4 separate regions of the Homo sapiens genome follow, and all the other regions are linked to region 1. The links come from fine-mapping of genetic effects on gene expression. A gene starts in region 1. Each other region holds a variant in brackets. All regions are shown on one strand. Distances are between the middles of the regions.

Evidence for each region.
Region 2: its variant is fine-mapped to the expression of NECTIN2 in whole blood (TOPMed, PIP above 0.99). The same link has a PIP of 0.9 or more in blood mononuclear cells and lung.
Region 3: its variant is fine-mapped to the expression of NECTIN2 in gastroesophageal junction (GTEx, PIP 0.98).
Region 4: its variant is fine-mapped to the expression of NECTIN2 in lung (TOPMed, PIP above 0.99). The same link has a PIP of 0.9 or more in sun-exposed skin and unexposed skin.

The regions. Positions count from the first base shown.
Region 1 is chr19:44,841,963-44,848,165 of GRCh38, reverse strand. NECTIN2 (nectin cell adhesion molecule 2) reads right to left here and starts at 1,869. Exons shown (of 9, transcript NM_001042724.2): 1 at 1,553-1,869. The coding sequence starts at 1,640. RefSeq lists an enhancer at 1-159 and silencers at 1,799-1,898, 2,029-2,108, 2,189-2,238, 3,106-3,505.
Region 2 is chr19:44,867,174-44,871,173 of GRCh38, reverse strand. The region is part of intron 2 of NECTIN2 (nectin cell adhesion molecule 2); the gene reads right to left. Among named protein-coding and RNA genes, the nearest start is that of TOMM40, 22 kb to the left of the region's middle. The variant T/C (reference allele first, on the strand shown) is at 2,102.
Region 3 is chr19:44,763,332-44,769,534 of GRCh38, reverse strand. It overlaps the pseudogene LOC124900431. Among named protein-coding and RNA genes, the nearest start is that of MIR8085, 7.8 kb to the right of the region's middle. The variant C/T (reference allele first, on the strand shown) is at 2,650.
Region 4 is chr19:44,876,597-44,880,596 of GRCh38, reverse strand. The region is part of intron 5 of NECTIN2 (nectin cell adhesion molecule 2); the gene reads right to left. Among named protein-coding and RNA genes, the nearest start is that of TOMM40, 13 kb to the left of the region's middle. RefSeq lists enhancers at 1-11, 12-861, 862-1,711. The variant G/A (reference allele first, on the strand shown) is at 1,937.

The sequences.
Region 1 (6,203 bases):
AAGCGGAGTTCCCAGCTCTGGGTCAAAGCTGGGAGGCCAGTGAGAGCCATCCTGGGGGAAATGAGGCCAGAGAGGTGGCCGGGGTTCCCCCAAGATCCCCCTGAGCTCTCTTCTGCGCAAACCCTCGGGAAACTCTAGCATCCCAGAGTTTGTCGCTGGGAATACACAACCGGGTCACCTGCAAGGGGCGGGGCCAGCGCCTCTTTCAAGGGTTCCCTCCCAGCCCCTCCCTCCCCAGGGGGGCCGCTCTCCTCCCCTAGTGGGGTGGATGGAAGGACGCCAGGGGGTCCAAGGCATAGCAATGGGAGGGACGGGGGATAAGGGCGGCGGCTCCACTCGTCCACCTCCTGCTATGGCTCTGAGGACAAAGGCGCTACCAGAGGATAGATAAGGTCCCGAAACCGGGGAGTCCGGAACCCGGAGCCAGGAGCGCCCGCCCCGCCCCTCCCTGGCTCGGCGAGAGTGAAACCAGGAAAACTTCCCCGGCGACGTCTCCGTCGCCCCCGACCATTCATAGGGAAAGGGAGGAGTCTCCCAGCCTCTGGGACTCGGGGCCTCCCGTTCTATCTGGGACTCAGGCGACTGAGACTCCAGCCTCAAGACAGAGCCTTCGACCCTTGATCATATCTGGAGCCCAAGAGACGGGGCCCGCTGCTCGCACTTCTGTTTGGATCTCAGAAGACGTTCCTCTGCCTACAATTAAGTCTGAAGCCCACGAGATCGAGTCTCCTGTCCCCCGGTTCTGCCGGGAACCCTGAAAACGAAGCCCCCTGCCCACAATTAAATCCAGAAGCTACAAGTTTGATCCTCTCTCGCCCCCAGTTTTACCTAGATCCCAGTTAGACTTAGCGCCTAGCCTCCATTCTACCAGGGACCCTGAAGACGGAGCCCCCGGCCCCTAATTTTTCTGGAGTCCACGGAGTCAGAACCCCCAACTCCCTGAGGTTCGGGGTTGGAGCTCCGAGCTCAGGCCCTTCCCCCTAAGTCGCCAGAACTCTTATCCTTAGCCCTCCAAGGGACCCGAATCAGGTCCGCTTGTCCTCAGTTCTCTCCGGGCCTCAGACGCCCAAGCCGGGAAGAAGGAAAAATAGGGGAGGGAGGTGGTCTCGCCTCTTCCTCGAGACCTTACTGCGGTAGGTGGGGGGAACATTCCCCACATTCCTGAGAGGGGTAGAGGAGACAGAGACCCAGATCCGGGTGAACTACTCGGCGCGGGGTGGGGAGGGGGCACCAGGCCTTCCTGGGATTTAACCCTTTCGGCGCGGGAATCCGAGAAATGGGGAGGGGGACAGACAAGCAGGCGTAGGATGGGCAATTGGATTAAGAAGGATGGGGGTGGTGGTGAGAGAGATGCAGAAAGGAGGGGTCAGAGTCTCCTCGAGAGAATCGGACGTGTAGGGGGTCGGAGTCTGTGGGGCCAGCCAGGAAGGGGGCACGCGAGAGGGGGCTCGGGGAGCCGGGGGTGGGCGGGGAAGGTGCTCGGCTTCCCCAGCTCGGAAGGTAAGGTTGGAGGGGGTCCGCGCGAGGGCAGGGGGCCGTCCGCTCGTCTCACCGGTTTCCAGGAGCAGCAGCAGCAGCAGCGGCCACAGCAGCGGCGTCGGCGGCGATCTCGACGGCAGGAGGGCAGCGGCCCGGGCCATGGAGGGCCCGGGAGGGGACTGGGCCCGGCCGGAGGCCCGCGGGCCACTCTGTGGGGGCCGATCGGCTGGGCGGTTTAGTAGGTGCCTGTGGGGCTCCGGCTCCGGCTCCGGGCCGGTTCCCGCTGCGCTCTAGCCTCCCTGTTCTGCTCTCCCGGCCCAGCTCTCCCCGCCCGGCTCGGCACCCCCGGCCTCTCGCTCAGCTCCGGCGGTTCGAACCCGCTGACGTCACAGGATCCACCCGCTGCTCCCCCGAGTCAAGCCGACCCTGGCTCCGGCCCCGCCCCCTCCTGGCGTTCTGACCCCGCCCCCCGGATTCCACCCCTGTTCCTCCCCGGGATTCCATTCTCGCTCCTCCCCAGGATTCTAAGGTCGCCCCTGCCAAAGAATTCTGTCTCCTTCGCTCCCGGCGTTAAACCACGCCCCCTAAGGTCTAGCCACGCCCCCTCTGCTCCCGAGTAGTTCCCACGCCCCGCCCCCTGCCTACCGGCCGCCTCGCCAAGGTCTTGCCACGCCCCTTTCGGCCCTTCCGGCCGACTCCGCCCCCACCAGCCCCGCCTCCACCAGCCCCGCCCCTCGCCCTAGCCGGAGTTCTCTCGGTCTCTTAGCTCAGTCCGTCCTGGCCTCTGTCCCACCCACAGTTCGAATCCTGCCCTTTCCTGCCTGCCCGGGTCCTCTCATCACAGTTGCCTGAGGCACGTGGGGCTTTACGGTTCTGCCCCCAGCACGTCCCGGTTGTGCGACCTCCCCGCAGGTCGAGCCCATCGCCCTGAGCCTGTTTCTCGTACCCTCGTGCGTTTCTAATCTCTGCCCCGAACTCTAGGTGTCGCTGCACTCGTTTCTTTCTGGATTTCTCTGTCTCTCTTACGTGTCTTTGTGTCTCTCTCACTCTCTTTGGGTCTTCCTCTCTGTCCCTGTATTTCTGCCTCTCTGGGTCTTTCCGTCCTCATGCTTCGGTGTCGCTCTGTTTCTGGTCTTCCTTTGTCAGTCACTGTTTCTTTATTTCAATAAAAGAGACGGGGCGGGGGGGCGGCGGGGTCTCACTATGTTGCTGAGGCTGGCCTCAAGCGATCCTCCCGGCTCGGCCTCCCAAGATGCTGGGATTACAGGCGTGAGCCACCAAGCCCGGCCTGTCTGTCACTGTTTCTGGGTCACTTGGTCCCCATGTCTCTTTCCATCCTTTGACTCTGTCTCTGTGTCTCTCTGTCTCTATCTGTGTGCCTCTCTGTCTCTGTCTCTATTTCTGTGTATCTCTGTCTCTATCGGCCTGTCTCTGTGCCTCTCTGTCTCTGTGTGCCTCTCTGTCTCTGTGTTTCTCTGTCTCTATCTCTGTGCCTCTCTATCTCTGTGCTTCTCTGTCTCTGTCTCTCCGTGTGTCTCTCTCTGTCTCTATCTGTGTCTCTCTGTCCCTGTCTCTTTCTCTGTGTCTCCCTCTCGGCGTCTCTTGTCTCTGCGTGCGAGTCTCTCTCGCTGTCTCTCTGTCCCTGCTCTGTTCTCTGCTTCCTTCCCTCCCTACCTCCCTGCGCGCCCTGGTCCTCCCCTCCCAACACCTGCTCCGCGCCGCCTTCTCACCGCAGCCACCCGCCAGGGGGCAGCAGAGACCGGCCCCCGCGCTGCGCTGGCCCGGCCGGGCTGGGTGGGGCTGGGCTCCAGTCCGGCCTCCGGACCTGGTCACTCCCCGCGTCCTTGTCCCACTTCCCCTATCTCCCCAGCCTCCTCGCGTCTTTGTGTCTCTCGCTCAGACTCGGGCCCTTTGTCTCTCCCAGCGGCTCGCCCTCCTCCCTACCCCCACCTACCTCTTCGCATTCTTTGGGCTGCCCAGGGGGAGCTGGTGAGGCCGCGCCGGGGGGCGGGATGAGGGCGCGAAGCGGGAGGCCGGGGGAGGGGGTGCCACGGAGCGCCAGTCTGGGCCCAAGTTCGTCCAGGGCCAGGAGGCGCGGAGCTGCTCAGCTGGGGGCAGGTGCTTGGGGGCTTCTTGCCCTAGCAAGAGGACCACCTAGGCTCGCCCTCCCTTCCACCTGCCACACACCTGGGCTTTCCTCCCCAGAAGGACTAGGTTTCAAGTAGCAGAGGCTGTTATCCCTCCGCATTCGAGTCTTAGTTATGATCCTTTTTTTTTTTTTTTCTTTGAGACGGAGTCTCGCTCTGTCGCCCAGGCTGGAGGGCAGTGGCGCGATCTCGGCTCACTGCAACCTCTGCCTCCTGGGTTCAAGCGATTCTCCTGAGTCAGCCTCCTGAGTAGCTGGGATTACAGGCGCGCGCCACCACGCCCGGCTAATTTTTGTATTTTTAGTAGAGACGGGGTTTCACCATGTTGGTCAGGCTGGTCTCAAACTCCTGACCTCCTGATCCACCCGCTTCAGCCTCCCAAAATGCTGGGATTGCAGGTGTGAGCCACCGCGCCCGGCACTTACGATACTGTTAATACATGTAGTCAGCACTTACCGTGTGCCAGGCACTGATCTAAGTGCACTGCGAATATTATCTCATGTAAGCCATGCAGCGCCATGGGCGATAGGGAAACTGAAGCAGAGAGATGAAGTGACTCACTGAGTTACAAAATGGCAGAGCCAGGGCGGGGCGCCCTGGCTGACGCCTGTAATCCCAGCACTTTGGGAGGCTGAGGCGGGTGGATCACTTGAGTTCAGGAGTTCGAGACCAGCCTGGCCGACATGGTGAAACCCTGTCTCTACTTGGGAGGCTGAGGCAGGAGAATCGCTTGAACCCGGGAGTTGGAGGTTGCAGTGAGCCGAGATCGCACCACTGCACTCCAGCCTGGGCAACAGAGTGAGACTCAGTCTGAAAAACATAAAATAAAATAGAAATTAAAAATAAATAAAAATAAACAAAATGGCAGAGCCAGAGCTGACTCTTCTAAGCACCTTATTTCTCTTAGTTAGTTCCTCACAGGGATCCCATGAAGGGGACACCATGGTGATCCCCATTTCACTGAAAAGTAAACTGAGGCACAGGGTGGTTGTTTGCCCCAAGCCACCCAGCAAAGACACATAGCAGGCCGGGTGCTTCTTTTGGGCCCGGATGGTCTGTGCTCTTTTTGTTTTTGAGACGGAGTCTGGCTCTGTTGCCAAGGCTGGAGTGCAGTGGCGCAATCAATCTCGGCTCGCTGCAACCTCCGCCCCCCAGGTTTGAGTGATTCTCCTGCCTCAGCCTCCTGAGTAGCTGGGATTACAGGCACGCACCACCACGCCCGGCTAATTTTTGTATTTTTAGTAGTGACGGGCTTTCACCATGTTGGTCAGGCTGGTCTCGAACTCCTGACCTTGTGATCTGCCTGCATTAGCCTCCCAAAGTGCTGGGATTACAGGGGTGAGCTACTGCACCCGGCCAGTCTGTGCTTTTAACCTCCATGCCATGTGAGCTCCAGATAGCTTGTGTCTCAGGCTTGGCACAAACTGGGTGTGAGGATGGCTGGACAAATAGGCGCACACATAATAAATGCATAGCAGCTACAGCTACTCGGGAGGCCGAGGTGGGAGGATCACCTGAGCCCAGGGAGGTTGAGGCTGCAGTGAGCTGTGATTGAGCCACTGCACTCCAGCCTGGGAGACAGAGAGATTTTGTCTCTAAAATAAATAAATACACAAATAGGCCTTGCGCAGTGGCTCATGTCTGCAATCCCAGCACTTTGGGAGGCCAAGGCTGGCAGATCACTTGAATTTAGGGGTTCAAGACACGCCTGGCAACATGGTAGAGCCCCGTCTCTTAAAATATATATAATAATAAAATAAAACAGTAAAATAAATAAATGTGCTTAATTTATTTATGTATTTAATTTTGAGGCAGGGTTGTGCTTTGTCGCCCAGGTTGGAGTGCAGATCTTGGCTCCCTCTAACCTCAAACTTCCCAGCCCAAGGGATCCTCTGCCTCAGCCTCCTGAGTAGCTGGGACTACAGGCATGTGCCACTATGCTCGGTGCATTTTTTTTTTTTGAGACAGTCTCTGCTCTGTCGCCCAGGCTGGAGTGCAGTGGCGCGATCTTGGCTCAGTGCAAGCTCCGCCTCCCAGGTTCATGCCATTCTCCTGCCTCAGCCTCTCGAGTAGCTGGGACTACAGGTGCCTGCCACCACGCCCAGCTGATTTTTTGTATTTTTAGTAGAGACGAGGTTTCATGGTCTTAGCCAGGATGGTCTCGATCTCCTGACCTCGTGCTCCACCTGCCTCGGCCTCCCAAAGTGCTGGGATTACAGGCGTGAGCCACTGTGCCCGGCTGCTCGGTGCATTTTTAAATGTTTTGTAGAATTTGATTCTCGCTTTGTTGCCCAGGCTGGTCTTGAACTCCTGCCCTCAAGTGATCCTCTCACCTCAGCCTCCCAAAGTGCTGGGATTACAGGTGTGAGCCATCGCGCCTGGCAATAAATGTGCTTTAGATCTCTCTGACCTTCTCTCCCCAATCTGAGGCCAGGTTTGTGGACCAGGACCTCTGGGTTTTAGTGCCAGCCTTGCTACTAACTTGCTTTGCAAAATCCTGGGACCCCCGTTTATCCATTGAACAAAAGAACCAGTCCCCAGGAAGTCTTCTTCTAGGAAGGCCTCTAGCACCTCCTT
Region 2 (4,000 bases), 24 kb before region 1:
AAAAAGCTGGTCGGGCGTGGTGGTTCACACCTGCAATACCAGCACTTTAGGAGGCTGAGGAGGGTGGATCACTTGAGGCCAGGAATTTGAGACCAGTCTGGCCAACATGGTGAAAACTCATCTCTACTGAAAATACAAAAATTAGGATGGGCGCAGTGGCTCATGCCTGTAATCCCAGCACTTTGGGAGGCCCAGGTGGGCAGATCACCTGAGGTCAGGAGTTCTAGACTAGCGTGGCCAACGTGGTGAAACCCCATCTCTACTAAAAATGCAAAAATTAGCTGGGCGTGGTGGCAGGTGCCTGTAATCCCAGGTACTCGGGAGGCTGAGGTAAGAGAATTGCTTGAACCTGGGAGGCAGAGGTTGTAGTGAGCCGAGATCGTGCCACTGCACTCCAGCCTGGGTGACAGTGAGACTCTGTCTCCAAAAGAAAAAAAAAAAAAAGGAAAAAAAAAAAGCAAATCAAGGCCGAGCGAGTAACTGAGTACTGTGGTTCAAAGGTCCAGCTGGAAAGGCCCCCTGTTCCTTTTCCTGTAATCACCATTAGATGATTGAATGACTGGAAGTGTGATAAAGGCAGAAAATCTCAAAGCCGTTTCTTTTTTTTATACCCTTTCCACCTCATTCTCTTGGAAAACATGGAAAAAAATCACAAAAACAAAACTCCAGGAAGAATAGCAGCTCATGCTTATGATGTGTGTCCCCCACCCAGACTCACATCTTCTGTTGCTTTCTGGACCTGGGTATCCACCTCTGAACTTCTCAACACGGTCTGACTCTCCTCTTCTTCCCAGCTCTCCCTTCCCACCGCCTTCTCCCCTGACCATCGTGGAGCATCCAACAAGCCTCCCCACATCCTCCTGGCCGCCCTCCAAGCTGTTAGAATAGTGACTCAGGGCCCGAGCCCACCACTTCCCCATGGCCACCTCCCCTGGCCACTCCACATGCTCCCCATCCACGCCCTCCTCAGTCTCTGCCTCCACCCACTTTGGGGTTTTGGTTGGTGATTTTGTGCCTGGATTGCTTTGGCCTCCTTCTCCAGACCCCACTCCAAGCCCCACTTCGTCAAGGGCACTTTCCTGACCGCCGACTCTGGCCAACTATTCCTTGGTGGCTCACGCATCATGAAGACAGAGGCTTTGGCTGTTTTGTTCCTTACTTCTGCACCAGTGTGTATACGGAAGCTCTTGAGGTTATCTCTCTCTCTCTCTTTTTTTTTTATTAATTTGAGACAGAGTCTTGCTGTCACCCAGGATGCAGTGCAGTGGTGCAATCTCAGCTTACTGCAACCTGCCCTTGCTGGTTTCAGCAATTCGCCTGCCTTAGCCTCCTGAGTAGCTGGGATTACAGGTGTGCGCCACCATTCCTAGCTAATTTTTATTTGTAGTTTTGGAGACCCTCTCTCCAAGAAACAAACAAACAAACAAAAGCTCACTTGCAAGAGCTGCTTGCCTTGGCCCCTGCTTGAAGTGTATATTCAGGGCAACTTCAATCTATGCTCCCAGGTGGTCATCCTCAAGCTTTGGGCTTGATTAAACCCTACACTTAATCATATTTTCTTTTCTTTTTTTTTTTTTTTTTGAGATGGAGTCTCGCTCTGTCGCCCAGGCTGGAGTGCAGTGATGCGATCTCGGCTCACTGCAAGCTCCGCCTCCTGGGTTCATGCCATTCTCCTGCCTCAGCCTCCCAAGTAGCTGGGACTACAGGCACCCGCCACCACGCCCGGCTAATTTTTTTGTATTTTTAGTAGAGACAGGGTTTCACCGTGTTAGCCAGGATGGTCTCAATCTCCTGACCTCGTGATCCGCCTGCCTCGGCCTCCCAAAGTGCTGGGATTACAGGCGTGAGCCACTGCGCCTGGCCCTTAATCATATTTTCTGAGTCTCATTATTTATTTATTTATTTTGAGACAGAGTTTTGCTCTTGTTGCCTCTCAGCCTCCCAAAGTGCTGGGATTACAGGTGTGAGCCACCGTGCCCAGCCCTGAAGTTATCTCTGGATGAGAACAAATGATTGCACAAGAAGAGAGGCGTTTGTGAGGGTGGGGAGGAGAAGAGCTGTCCTTTGTATTATGGAAAACGGCTGTGGTTTCATGTGTTAC[T/C]GGAAAGGGAAGTGTTTACTCAAGGATAGCACAGGGTGACCTTCTCAGACGCTCTGGGCTGAGAAGGGGGAAGAAAAGGCATCCAGAGTGACGTGGCTTCTGGGAAGTTGCCTAGGGAAGGTGGGCTCCCAGGGGACTTCCAACATATTTTTTTTTTTTTCCAGACAGAGTCTCACTCTGTCGCCCAGGCTGGAGTATAGTGGCGCGATCTCGGCTCACTGCAAGCTCCGCCTCCCGGGTTCAAGCCATTCTCCTGCCTCAATCTCCCGAGTAGCTGGGACTAAGGCACCCGCCACCACGCCTGGCTAATTTCTTGTATTTTTAGTAGAGATGGGGTTTCACCGTGTTAGCCAGGATGGTCTCGATTTCCTGACCTCGTGATCCGCCCGCCTCGGCCTCCCAAAGTGCTGGGATTACAGGAGTGAGCCACCACGCCCAGCCTCAAGATTTAAAGAAAGAGCATTCGTAGCTGGATGTGGTGACTCATGCCTGTAATCCCAGCTATGCAGGAGGCGGAGGTAGGAGGATCCCCTGAGCCCAGGAGTTCGAGTCTAGCCTGGACAATGTAGTGAGACTTTGTCTCAAAAAAAGAAAAAAAAAAAAAAAGAAAAAGGAAAAGAAAAAAAAGCATCCTTCAAAAAAAATCTTCCCTGCCTTCTCTATTTTTGCCAAGTATCAGTCACCTTCCCGCTGGGAGTCCTATTTTTTTTTTTTTTTTTTTGAGACAGGGTCTCGTGCTGGAGTGCAGTGGTGCAATCTTGGCTCACTTGCAATCTCTGCTTCCCAGGCCCAAGCGATCCTCCCACCTCAGCCTCTTGGGTAGCTGGGACTACAGGTGTGTGCTACCATGCCCAGCTAATTTTTTTTTTTCTTGTAGAGATGGGGCCTCACCATGTTGCCCAGAGTGGTCTGAAACTCCTGACCTCAAAGCGATCTGCCCACCTTGGCCTCCTAAAGTGCTGGGATTACAGGCGTGAGCCACCGCACCAGGCCTGGGACTCCTCTCTGATCCTGCTTCCCCCTCAATCCATGGGCAAGCCCAGCACCTACTATCTTCTAAAAACACCACTATATGCCGCCCGCTTCCCTCTGCCCCCCACTGCCTCATCCGTCTTCCCAGCAATGCCTCTTCTCCCCTCTCGTCCCAGCTCCCTTCTACCTCCGTCCACTCCTCCAATCACTCCTCATACTGCTGCCGGTCATTTTTTGCAACCTCAAACGTTTGTCCAGATCTCTCCTGTGGCTTGACACCTCCCATGGCTCTTAACCATGCTGAGGGCATAGTCCAGCCTCCTCGCCTCCACCTGTGAAGCCCGTGTAATGTGGCCCCGCTGAGGGTCACCCAAGCCCTTGCCTATCCTCACCAGCCCCCTTTCCATTCCTGGAACGCGCCCAGCTCCCATCTCATGCCCACCTCCCAGGTTTCTGTGCCCGTGCCCCTCTGCTATGCCCAAAGGTAGCTCCTTCTCAGACTCCAGGACTTGACTAAGACGCCTTCCCTGCACATCCTATCTCAATGAGGCCACTATGTCCCCTACTTCTAAGCCGTTTTACTTCCTGCCCGGACTGGACTTGTTTTAAGACAGGGTCTCGCTCTCTTGTCCAGGATGGAGTGCAGTAGCACAATCACAGCTCACTGCAGCCTCAACCTCCTGGGCTCAGGTGATCCTCCCACCTCAGTCTCTCGAGTAGCTGAAATTACAGGTAAGTCACTGAGCCTGGTTAATTAAAACAATTTTTTTTTCTTTCCTGGCCAGGCTCAGTGGCTCATGCCTATAATCCCAGCACTTTGAGAGGCCCAGGTGGACGGATCACCTGAGGTCGGGAGTTCAAGACCAGCCTGGCCAACATGGTGCAACCCCGTCTCTACTAAAAATACAAAAAAATTTAGCTAGGTGT
Region 3 (6,203 bases), 79 kb after region 1:
GCCGAGGCGGGCGGATCATGAAGTCAGGAGATCGAGACCATCCTGGCTAACACGGTGAAACCCCATCTCTACTAAAAATATAAAAAATTATCCGGGCGTGGTGGCGGGCGCCTGTAGTCCCAGCTACTTGGGAGGCTGAGGCAGGGGAATGGCATGAACCCAGGAGGCGGAGCTTGCAGTGAGCTGAGATCACGCCACTGCACTCCAGCCTGGGCGACAGAGCGAGACTCCGTCTCAAAAAACAAACAAACAATGAAAAAAAGAAAAGATGTGTTCTGTTTACCTCTCACACTCTTTTTTTTTCTTTTTGTTTTTTGAGACAGTCTCCCTCTGTCGCCCAGGCTGGAGTGCAGTGGCTGAATCACAGCTCACTGCAACCTCTGCCTCTGGGTTCAAGCAATCCTTCTACCTCAGCCTCTCAAGTTGGTGGGTGCCACCATACCTGGCTAATTTTTGTAGAGATGGGATTTTGCCATGTTGCCCAGGCTGGTCTTGAACTCCTGGCCAATCCACTCACCTTGGCCTCCCAAAGTGCTGGGATTACAGGTGTAAGCCACCGTCCCCTGACTCTGTGTGTGTGTGTTTGAGGCAAAGTCTCTCGCTGTCACTCAGGCTGGAGTGCAGTGGCATGGTCACAGCTCACTGCAGCCTCAACCTCCTGGGCTTAAGCGATCCTCCCACCTCAGCCTTCTGAGTATCTGGGACTGCAGGCACGTGCCACCATGTTCGGGGTTAGAGCCGGGGTCTACCCATGTTGCCCAGGATGGTCTTGAACTCCAGGGCTCAGTCTGTCCTCCCACCTCAGCCTCCCAAAGGGTTGGGATTACAGGTGTGAGCCACTGTGCCCGGCCAATGCTCTTAAAGTCACTTTTTGGAATGTCCCAGGCATTTAGAATCTGGCAGATTTCACACACGCATCTAGGAGAGATGTCCTCTGTCTTTCTGGGTTTACTCAATGTGGTGAGGACAAGCGAGTGGAGCCCCGAGAAATGCATTGAAGGTATGACTTCTGGCGTTAGAGCTGTCCCCGGAATGCTGGGACTGTCACCCATGAGGAGCTTTGGAAGTTGAGGGGTGAGTGATTGAATTATTATTATTATTTTTCTGTCACCCAGGCTGGAGTGCAGTGGCACGATCTTGGCTCACTGCAACCTCCCCCTCCCAGGTTCAAGCAATCCTCCCACTTCAGTCTCCCTAGTAGCTGGGACTACAGATGTGTGCCACCATATCCAGCACATTTTTGTATTTTTAGAACAGACGGGGTTTCACCATGTTGGCCAGGCTATGAGTGCTTAATTCTGTGAAGGCTGGGAGGCTGGAGACCCCAAGCAGGACCCTTCCTCCATCTTTGGAGTCTGCCTTTCTCCAGCGGAAGGGGGAAGACTGTGGAAGGACATGTGCCTAGTCCCAAGGTCTAGGAGGCTGAGTGGGGATTTCCATGTGTACAGAGGCCAGATCCCTTGTTTTAGAGAAGTTACTTATAAAGTTCAGTGCTGGGTTCAGCTCTCAAGCCCCGGGACGGTTTCTCATACACGAAAAGCCACATCACCCACAGCCTAGACCCACAAGCACAAGAGGACTTCCAACACACTCCAGACTGATGATGGGCCAGGTCCTGGGCTAAGTGCCTGACACTCACACTCTCATTAAATGCCCAACAACCCATCAACCCCAAGGGGTCGGGGGGATTCCCTTCTTACAGGTGAGGAAACTGAGGCTCAGTGTGGTGAAGTCACTTCACCTTGAGTCATTTAGTCATTTGGTGGCAGAGCCCTGGTTGTGACAGATACATGTGCGGCCCCTCAATAACCATTCTCTCCTCTTCCTTTTGTAGCAGAACCCCTGAATTTTGGCTGGGTACATGCTGCCCAGATAAAACCACATTTCCCAGCCTCTGTTGTGATAGGTGTGGTCATGTGACTAAATTCTGGCCAAATAGGATGTGATGTGTATGATGTGTATGACTTCTGGGTTGTAGCTTTAAAGGTAGGGGCATGCGATTGACTTTTGTTTCTTCTTCCCAGTGGTTGGAATGTGGATGTGATGGTGGGAGCTGGAGCAGCCATTTTGGACCACACAATGGAAGTGTGAGGTGAGGGCAGCAGAACAACCAGGTAGAAGGAGCCTCGATCTCTGACATCCTTGGCTACTATTCTAGATGCGGGTGTTCGCTGGGCCTTTACATGAGAGAAAAATAGACTTTCATCTTATTTAAGCTACTATTGGGTGGACGTGGTAGCTCATGCCTGTAATCCCAGCACTTTGGGAGGCCAAGGTGGGTGATCACCTGAGGTCGGGAGTTCAAGACCAGCCTGACCAACATGGCGAAACTCCATCACTACTAAAAATACAAAAATTAGCCGGGCGTGGTGGCAGGCTCCTGTAATCCCAGCTACTCGGGAGGCTGAGGCAGGAGAATCGCTTGAACCTGGGAGGCAGAGGTTGCAGTGAACTGAGATTTTGCCACTGCACTCCAACCTGGGTGACAGAGCAAGACTCTGTCTCAAAAAAAAAAAAGCTACTATATTTCTTCTTTTATTTATTATATTTTTAAAGACAGGGTCTCACTCTGTCACCCAGGCTGGAGCATAGTGGTGCAGTCATAGGTCACTGTAGCCCTGACCTCTCGGTGTCAAGTGGTCCTCCTAC[C/T]TCAGCCTCCTGAGTAGCTGGGACTACAGATGCACGCTACCATGCCTGGTTAATTTTTGCGTTTTTTTTTGTAGAGATAGGGTTTCGCCATGTTACCCAGGCTTTTGCCATGTTACTCAGGCTCTTTGTTTTATATATTTTTTAAAGATAGGGTCTCTCTCTGTTGTCTAGGCTGGAGTGCAGTGGTGCAATCATAGCTCATTGCAGCTTCAAACTCCTCTCGGCCTTTTTTTTTTTTTTTTTTGAGATGGAGTCTCCTCTGTCACCCAGGCTGGAGTGCAGTGGTGCGATCTCAGCTCACCGCAAGCTCCGCCTCCCAGGTTCACCCCATTCTCCCGCCTCAGCCTCCCGAGTAGCTGGGACTACAGGTGCCTGCCACCACGCCTCGCTAATTTTGTTTTTGTATTTTTAGTAGAGACGGGGTTTCACCATGTTAGCCAGGATGATCTGGATCTCCTGACCTTGTGATCCGCCTGTCTCGGCCTCCCAAACTTCTGGGATTACAGGCGTGAGCCACTGCACCCTGCCTCAGCCTTTGAATAGCTAGGACCACAGGCACCTAATATAATTTTTTTTTTTTTATTGTAGAGAGAGGATCTTGCTATGTGGCCCAGGCTGATCTCAAACTCCTGGGCTCAAGCAATTCTCCTGCCTTGGCCTCCAAAAGTGCTGGAATTACAGATGCGAGTCACTTCACTCTTTCAAGAGATGGGGTCTCACTACATTGCCCAGGCTGGTCTCAAACTCCTGGGCTCAAGTGATCCTCATGCCTCAGCCTCCCTCCCGAGTAGCTATGACTACAGGTGTGTGCCACCATGCCCAGCTATATTATTTAATTTAATTACAACCGTGGAATAAAAAAAATGTAGCTAAAACACACATCTAGGCTATGACCTCATTGTTCCATTTTTCTACCAGGACAAAGAATAGGTCTCATCGTCTCTACTGTGTTTCCTCTGACCTCAAAACTGTCAAAAATTCTTAGATGATGGCAACAGCAATTCCCATTTATGAAGCTCTTACTCAGCACCATGGCCTGTAATAAGTATTGCACAAAATTTACTTCCCCCCACCTTTTTCCTTTTTTGAGACAAGGTCTCTCTCTGTCACCCAGGCTGGAATGCAGTGGCGCAATCTTGATTCACTGCGGCCTTGACCTCTTAGGCTCAAGTGATCCTGCCACCTCGGCCTCCCCAGTGGGTGGGACTACAGGCGTGCACCACCATACCGGCTAATTTTTGTTTTTTTTTTGGAGAGACAGGGTTTCACCATATTGCCCAGGCTTGTCTTGAACTCCTGGGCTCAATCGATCTGCCCACCTCCAGCTCCCAAAGTGCTAGGATTACAGGCGTGAGCCACTGTGTCCCGTTCATATTTTTTTTTTTTCGGTTTGGACAGGAAGGAGGATTTATTGGTGGGTGTGAGTAAGCAGGGCTCGCCACTATTCCAGGGGCCTATGATTGGGGATGTATCTGATGCCACAGCCATCCAGGATGAGCTACTTCTCAGCCACCGTGTCTTCACATTCATCTGCACTAAACTTGGTAAAGTCCCACCGCCTTGAGATGTGGGTCTTCTGGTGGCCAGGGAGCTTGAACTTGGCCCTGGGTAGGGCCTCAATCACGTGTTCCATGTTCTGCAGCTTGGTGCGGATGGACGTGATGCCTTAGCCAATGTGAACCCTGGCCACCACACCCTGGGGCTTTCCAAAGGCGCCTCGCATACCTGTCTGGAGTCTAGACTGGGGTGAGGTCAAGATCAGAAACATGAACATGCATCGGAAAGGGCTATCTCCAAGGTCTCTTAAGGCCACCGCTACACGCAGCAGGCTGCGTATACTACTGAGGGCACTGCTGTTTGCCGCCACTGCATAGGAGGAGAGGAGCACAATTAGCTTGACTAGTGTTCATGTTTAAACCTTGGAGCAAACCTGCAAGTTGCTCTAAGGATTAAACATAAATATTGGCTGGGTGCGGTGGCTCATGCCTGTAATCCCAGCACTCTGGGAGGCTGAGCCAGGAGGATCTCCTGGGGTCGGGAGTTTGAGACCAGCCTGACCAACATGGTGAAACCCTGTCTCTACTAAAAATACAAAAAATTAACTGGATGTGGTGGCGGGTGCCTGTAGTCCCAGCTACTCGGGAGGCTGAGGCAGGAGAATGGCGTGAACCCGGGAGGTGGAGCTTGTAGTGAGCTGAGATTGCGCCGCTGCACTCCAGCCTGGGCGACAGAGCGAGACTTCATCTCAAATAAATAAATAAATAAATAAAATTAAAAATTAGCTGGGCATGATGATGCATGCCTGTAATTCCAGCTACTTGGGAGGCTGAGGCAGGAGAATTGCTTGAACCTGGGAGACGGAGATTGCAGTGAGCAGAGATTGCACCACTGCACTCCTCCAGCCTGTGCAGCAGAGTGAGACTTAGTAACAACAAAACAAAACAAAACAAAACAAAACAAAACAAAACAAGAGACAGGATCTCCCTCTGGCACCCAGGCTGGAATGCAGTGGCGTGATCATAGTTCACTGCAGCCTTGACATCCCGGGCTAAAGTGATGCTTGAACCTCAGCCTCCTAAGTAGCTGGGACTGCAGGCACACACCACCAGGCTCATGCTCAGCCAACACATTTTTTGATCTTCTGTAGAGACAGCGTCTCACTATGTTGACCAGGAAACATAGAAATAATCTCTCCCTCCCTCCCTCCCTCGCTTGCTTCCTTCCTTCCTTCCTTCCTTCCTTCCTTCCTTCCTTCCTCTCCCTCTTTCCTCCCTTCCCCTCCCCTTCCCTTCCCTTCAAGACAGGGTGTTGCTATGTTGTCTGGGCTGGTCTTGAACTCCTGGCCTCAAGTGATCCTCCCACCTTGCCTTCCCCAAAGTGCTGGAATTGCAAGTGTGAGCCACTGTGCTCAGTGACAAATGTCCTCATAAGAGACAGAGAAGAAGACATGGACACACAAAGGAGAAGATCATGTGAAGACAGAGGCAGAGACTGGACTGATGCAGCCAGAAGCGGAGGAATGCTTGGGGCTACCAGAAGCTGGAAGAGGCAAGGAAGGAGTCTCCCCTACAGTTTTTGGTGAGTGCGGTCCTGCCGACGCCTTGATTTTGGACTTCCGGACTTCAGAACTGTAAAGGAATACATTTCTGTTGTGTTAAGCCACCTAGTTTGTGGCAGTTTGCATGGCAGCAACAGGATTTTTTATTTCTTATTTTTTATTTTTTTGAGACGGACTCTCGCTTTGTCTCCCAGGCTGGAGTGCAGTGACGTGATCTTGGCTCACTGCAACCCCTGCCTCCTGGGTTCAAGCTATTCTCCTGCCTCAGCCTCCTGAGTAGCTGGGATTACAGGTGCACACCACCACACCTGGCTAATTTTTGTATTTTTAGCAGAGACGGGATTTCACCATGTTGGCCAGGCTGGTCTCAAACTCCTGACCTCAAGTGATCTGCCCGCCTCGGCCTCCCAAAGTGCTGGGATTACAGGCATGAGCCATCGTGCCTGGCCAGCAACAGGACATTAACATGCCCTTCAAGCCTGGCAGCTTCAGAGAT
Region 4 (4,000 bases), 34 kb before region 1:
AGAATTGCTTGAACTTGGGAGGTGGAGGGTGCAGTGAGCCGAGATCGTACCACTGCACTCCAGCCTGGGTAACAGAGCTAGACACCGTCTCAAAAAAAAAAAAAAAAAAAAAAAAAAAAAAGGCAAGACAGGAAAAGGGGTCGAGAAGCGAGAAGCCTGTTTGCTCCTGGGCCTCTCCTTCCTTGCTAGCACCTCCCGTTTCCATTTCTCAAGTCTTTCCTAATGGAAGAGTTTTTGGAGTGGTTACCCGTTTACTTGCCAATTTCCATACTAGACTGTGTGCCTGAGGTTCGGCACACAGTAGGTGTTTGCTGGGTGTGTAAGGAGGACTCAGCATGGCACTGAAGGATCCACTGTGTGCCAGGCGGACCCAATTCCCCGCCCCTGCCCTCCGGTTGTCCGGGTGGGGTGGGTGGGTGAGTACAGACAACAAACAACCAGAGGAAGTAACAAGTATGGAAGGGCCCGTGGGGGTCACGCATGCATCGGCCTCACTCTCCAGATGAGGAGGAAGCTTCCAGAGGACGCTGGACTGTTGGATCTCCACTGCTCCCGTTCCACAGCCTGGCATCCTCTGGAGGGCTTCAGAGGGTGGGGGAGTGAGAGAGAGAGACTGCCCCTCGGTCCACACACACACCTTCATCCTAAACATACTGCTGCTATTCTTGTGGTCATTATGGCCGTGCACACCGGAGGACGGCACTGGGTCTGTGCAGGCCACAGCTGCAGCCCCAGCACTGCCTGGCACAGGGCTTGGTGGGGTCTGTGGAGGTCAATGAGGCTGCATGAGGGCATCACGGGCATGTCCTTACTGGGTCCCACGACAGCCTTGTGAGGCCGATGGAAACACCTGCCCCGTGTTACAGAGGAGGCATGGAGGCTTGGGAGAGCAGAGGTGACGCGGGTAAAAACCTGTCCCTTACTGAGCCTGGGAGTTCAAGGACCAAGGGCCGCCCCTCCCCCCGTCTTTGCTTTTCCAGTTGAGAGGAGCTGGAGGGAGCTGCCGCCACTCCCAGGGAGCCACTGAAAAGTCCCCTGGGGTGATCCCTGGGGGCAAGGATGGAGAAGGAGGGGAGCCACAGTCGGGGTGGCCAGAGGTGGGACTTCCCCAGCACCCCCCGCCTGCCCCATGCCCTCAGGGCCCCTAAGAATGGGAGTGGGGAGCAGCCCTCCCCTCCCGAGACCCCCAGCAACCTGGGGGAGTTGAGGTCTGAGGCTCCACTGGATCACAGCCCTCTGGCCTCATTCTCTCAGGACGCAGGGAACCTGGCTGAGCCCCTGCTGTCCCCACCCCCACCTCCACCCGAGGGCCCAGGAGTCCAGAGAACTCCTGCCTCTGATGGGTCTGGCCACACCATCCAGAAAGGCAGCCTCTGTCCTGGGACCCAGGAGTCCAAATGTCCAGGCCTCTGAGTCCCCAATCCAGTGACCTGAATCCTAGTTGCACGAGCCTTGCGGTTCTCGGCCATCCAATGCGTCTTTCAAGGATCCAAGTGGTCCGAGCCCCACAGCCTTCCCCAGTCTAACCCCTGCCAGGCTCTCGTTCCCCGGGGGCGTGGATCAGCTCTTCCCAGCCCTGGGACCTAGGAGTCCCTGTCCCACCCTCTCTTTCCCCAACATGCAAGGAGGGGGTCTGATGTATTACAAGACACCCCTGATGTTTTCCTCCAAGGCATTTATTAACTCCTGAGTGTCACGGGGCCAGGGGAAGGCTGGAGCCAAAACCAAGTCTCTGGGGGCGGGGGTCCTCTCTGGATCCCCACTACTCAGCTCCCCGGGCTCCCCATGCAGCCCTAGAGACGGGAGAAGTCCAGTGTGCTGTTCCACCTCCCTCCAAGTCCCAAGAAAGTGGGAGGCAGTGTTCCACTCCAGTGTCGTCCAGACGAACAAGTCCAACCAGTCTGGAACCCTAGGCCGGCGTGGTCAGGTCGGGGGC[G/A]GGAGGGCCGGGCCTGGCTCTGTCTCTGTCTGTGTCCAGGTCACACATAAACTGCCCGCCGTGAGATGAGGGAGCCGTCCAGCTGGGACTCCATGTCATCCTCGAGTGCTGGGGGTGGAGGCAACATGAGGCCTTTCTCTGCCTTCTCTTCCTCCTCCTCCTCCTCCTCATCCTTGCCATCTGGTTCCATGGGACCAGGGACTACTGGTGTCCAGAAGACGGGGTCCCCATTTCCCAACACCTGAGCTTTCGGATCGTAGAATCCCCCGTCGCCACTGGCTCCTCCTCCTGCTCCTCCAGGGCTCTTCCTCCTCCTCCTCACCCTCAGCAGGATGAAGGCCAAGGACCCCCCAGCCAGAAGCAGCAGCACCAGCAGTGTCCCCCCCACGGCCCCCCACACCAGCGGGCCCACATCTCGGGGCGAGGCCCTGGGGGTTTCTGAGGAGAGAGAGAAGGAGGGGTGAGAGAGAGAGAAAGGGAGACACAAGATCACGAGGATCGCTCTGGGGAGTGAGGGGGTGGGGGAGATGCAGGATAGGCGGGGATGGAGGGAGCGGGAGTGACCAGAATGAGGGGGTGACTCTGGGCAGAAGAATGGAGGAGGAGGAGGAGGGGGGTGGGGAAGCAGAAGCCCCTCCGCCCTTCGCTACAGCCTGAGCACCACTTTGTACAAGGAGGGGGATGCCAACCGGTGGTCCCCAGGTGTTAGTGTTTTGCAAAATTTAAATTGCTAGCCAACCTTTCAAAAATCAGGCGATTTCACTTAAAAATCCAGGTTTCTCTTAGGGGGACAAATCAGATCTAGCAACACCAAACTCCCATGTCTGGCGATCGCCGTAGCCGAGTGGAAGCTGGCTATTTGGATGCAATAGATCTGGCCGCCCGGTCACTGGCCAGGACCCTGGTGCCATCTGACTTCGCAGCCCTCCCTGAATGTGCTGTGGGGTCCTCACAAAGCTATGAGCTTGGGGGCCACACCCCCTCGGGGGAGGACAGCTGGGTTTCAGTGGGAGGCTGTCTGATCCCAAAGCTCTCTGCAGAGGGCCACAGATTCCTGATAATTCTGCCCTCTTGAGTGGCTGGGAGCATTTATTCCAAGTGCCGTGGCTGCCTCATCTCTAGGCCACTTATCCCCAGTGTGTAAAATGGGGTTCTCACAGACCGGGACAGTGGGACTTCCTTAGTGCTCCCTGCAGGGGCTGAGCAGGTGGGGATGGGGGATGGGAGGTAGTGGGGAGGCGGAGAGAGAGAGGAAGCCATGAAGTGCTGAGGAGGGCAGTGTGAGCAGGGAGGGATGGGGCTCCTGGGCCCCAAGCCAGGGACAGAAGTCAATGTAACCAGAACCTACCCACATCCACTTCCCCCATCCCTGCATGCAAGGCATAACTGGGACAGACGGGGGTGGGGGGTTCACCCACACCTGACCCCACCTCTACACCTCGACACACAGGAGGGGCTGAGACCCAGGAAGGACATCTGTTTCTGTTGTTTTCAAACAGGGGGTCATGACCCAGCGGGCTGTCAAATCAGCTTAGTGACTCACAAATAGCATTAAAAAAAGGAGGATAAAATCTTTTTTGGTAGGGGGTAGGGTGGTATATATGTCTCTAACTATACACTGGGTTGAGGAGTGAAACAGATTTTTCTCCTGTGCTGGTCACTAACTGGACCAGGTTGAGCCTATCTTGGGAGGCTTGTCTCTGTTTCTGGAGGTGGCATTGGTGTTTTGGAACTCGAAGCTGAGTCTGTTCATATGTCTAGGGTTCAAAGCTCTGAATCAGGCTTAGTGTGCTGGCTCATACCTGTAATCCCAGCACTTTGGGAGGCCAAAGCTGGAGGAATGCTTTGAGGCCAGGAGTTCAAGACCAGCCTGGCCAACATAGCGAGACCCTGTCTCTATTAAAAATAAAAAGTTCTCTGAGTCTCCCTAAAGATAGATCTGTCCTGTGGTGCGGCGTTCGTATCCTATGTTCGTGCTGCTGTGGACTCCATACTGTGTCTCTGTGACGACTCTGTGTGTGCCTGGATGTGGGTTCGTGGCTCAGAGACCCTCTGAGAGTGACC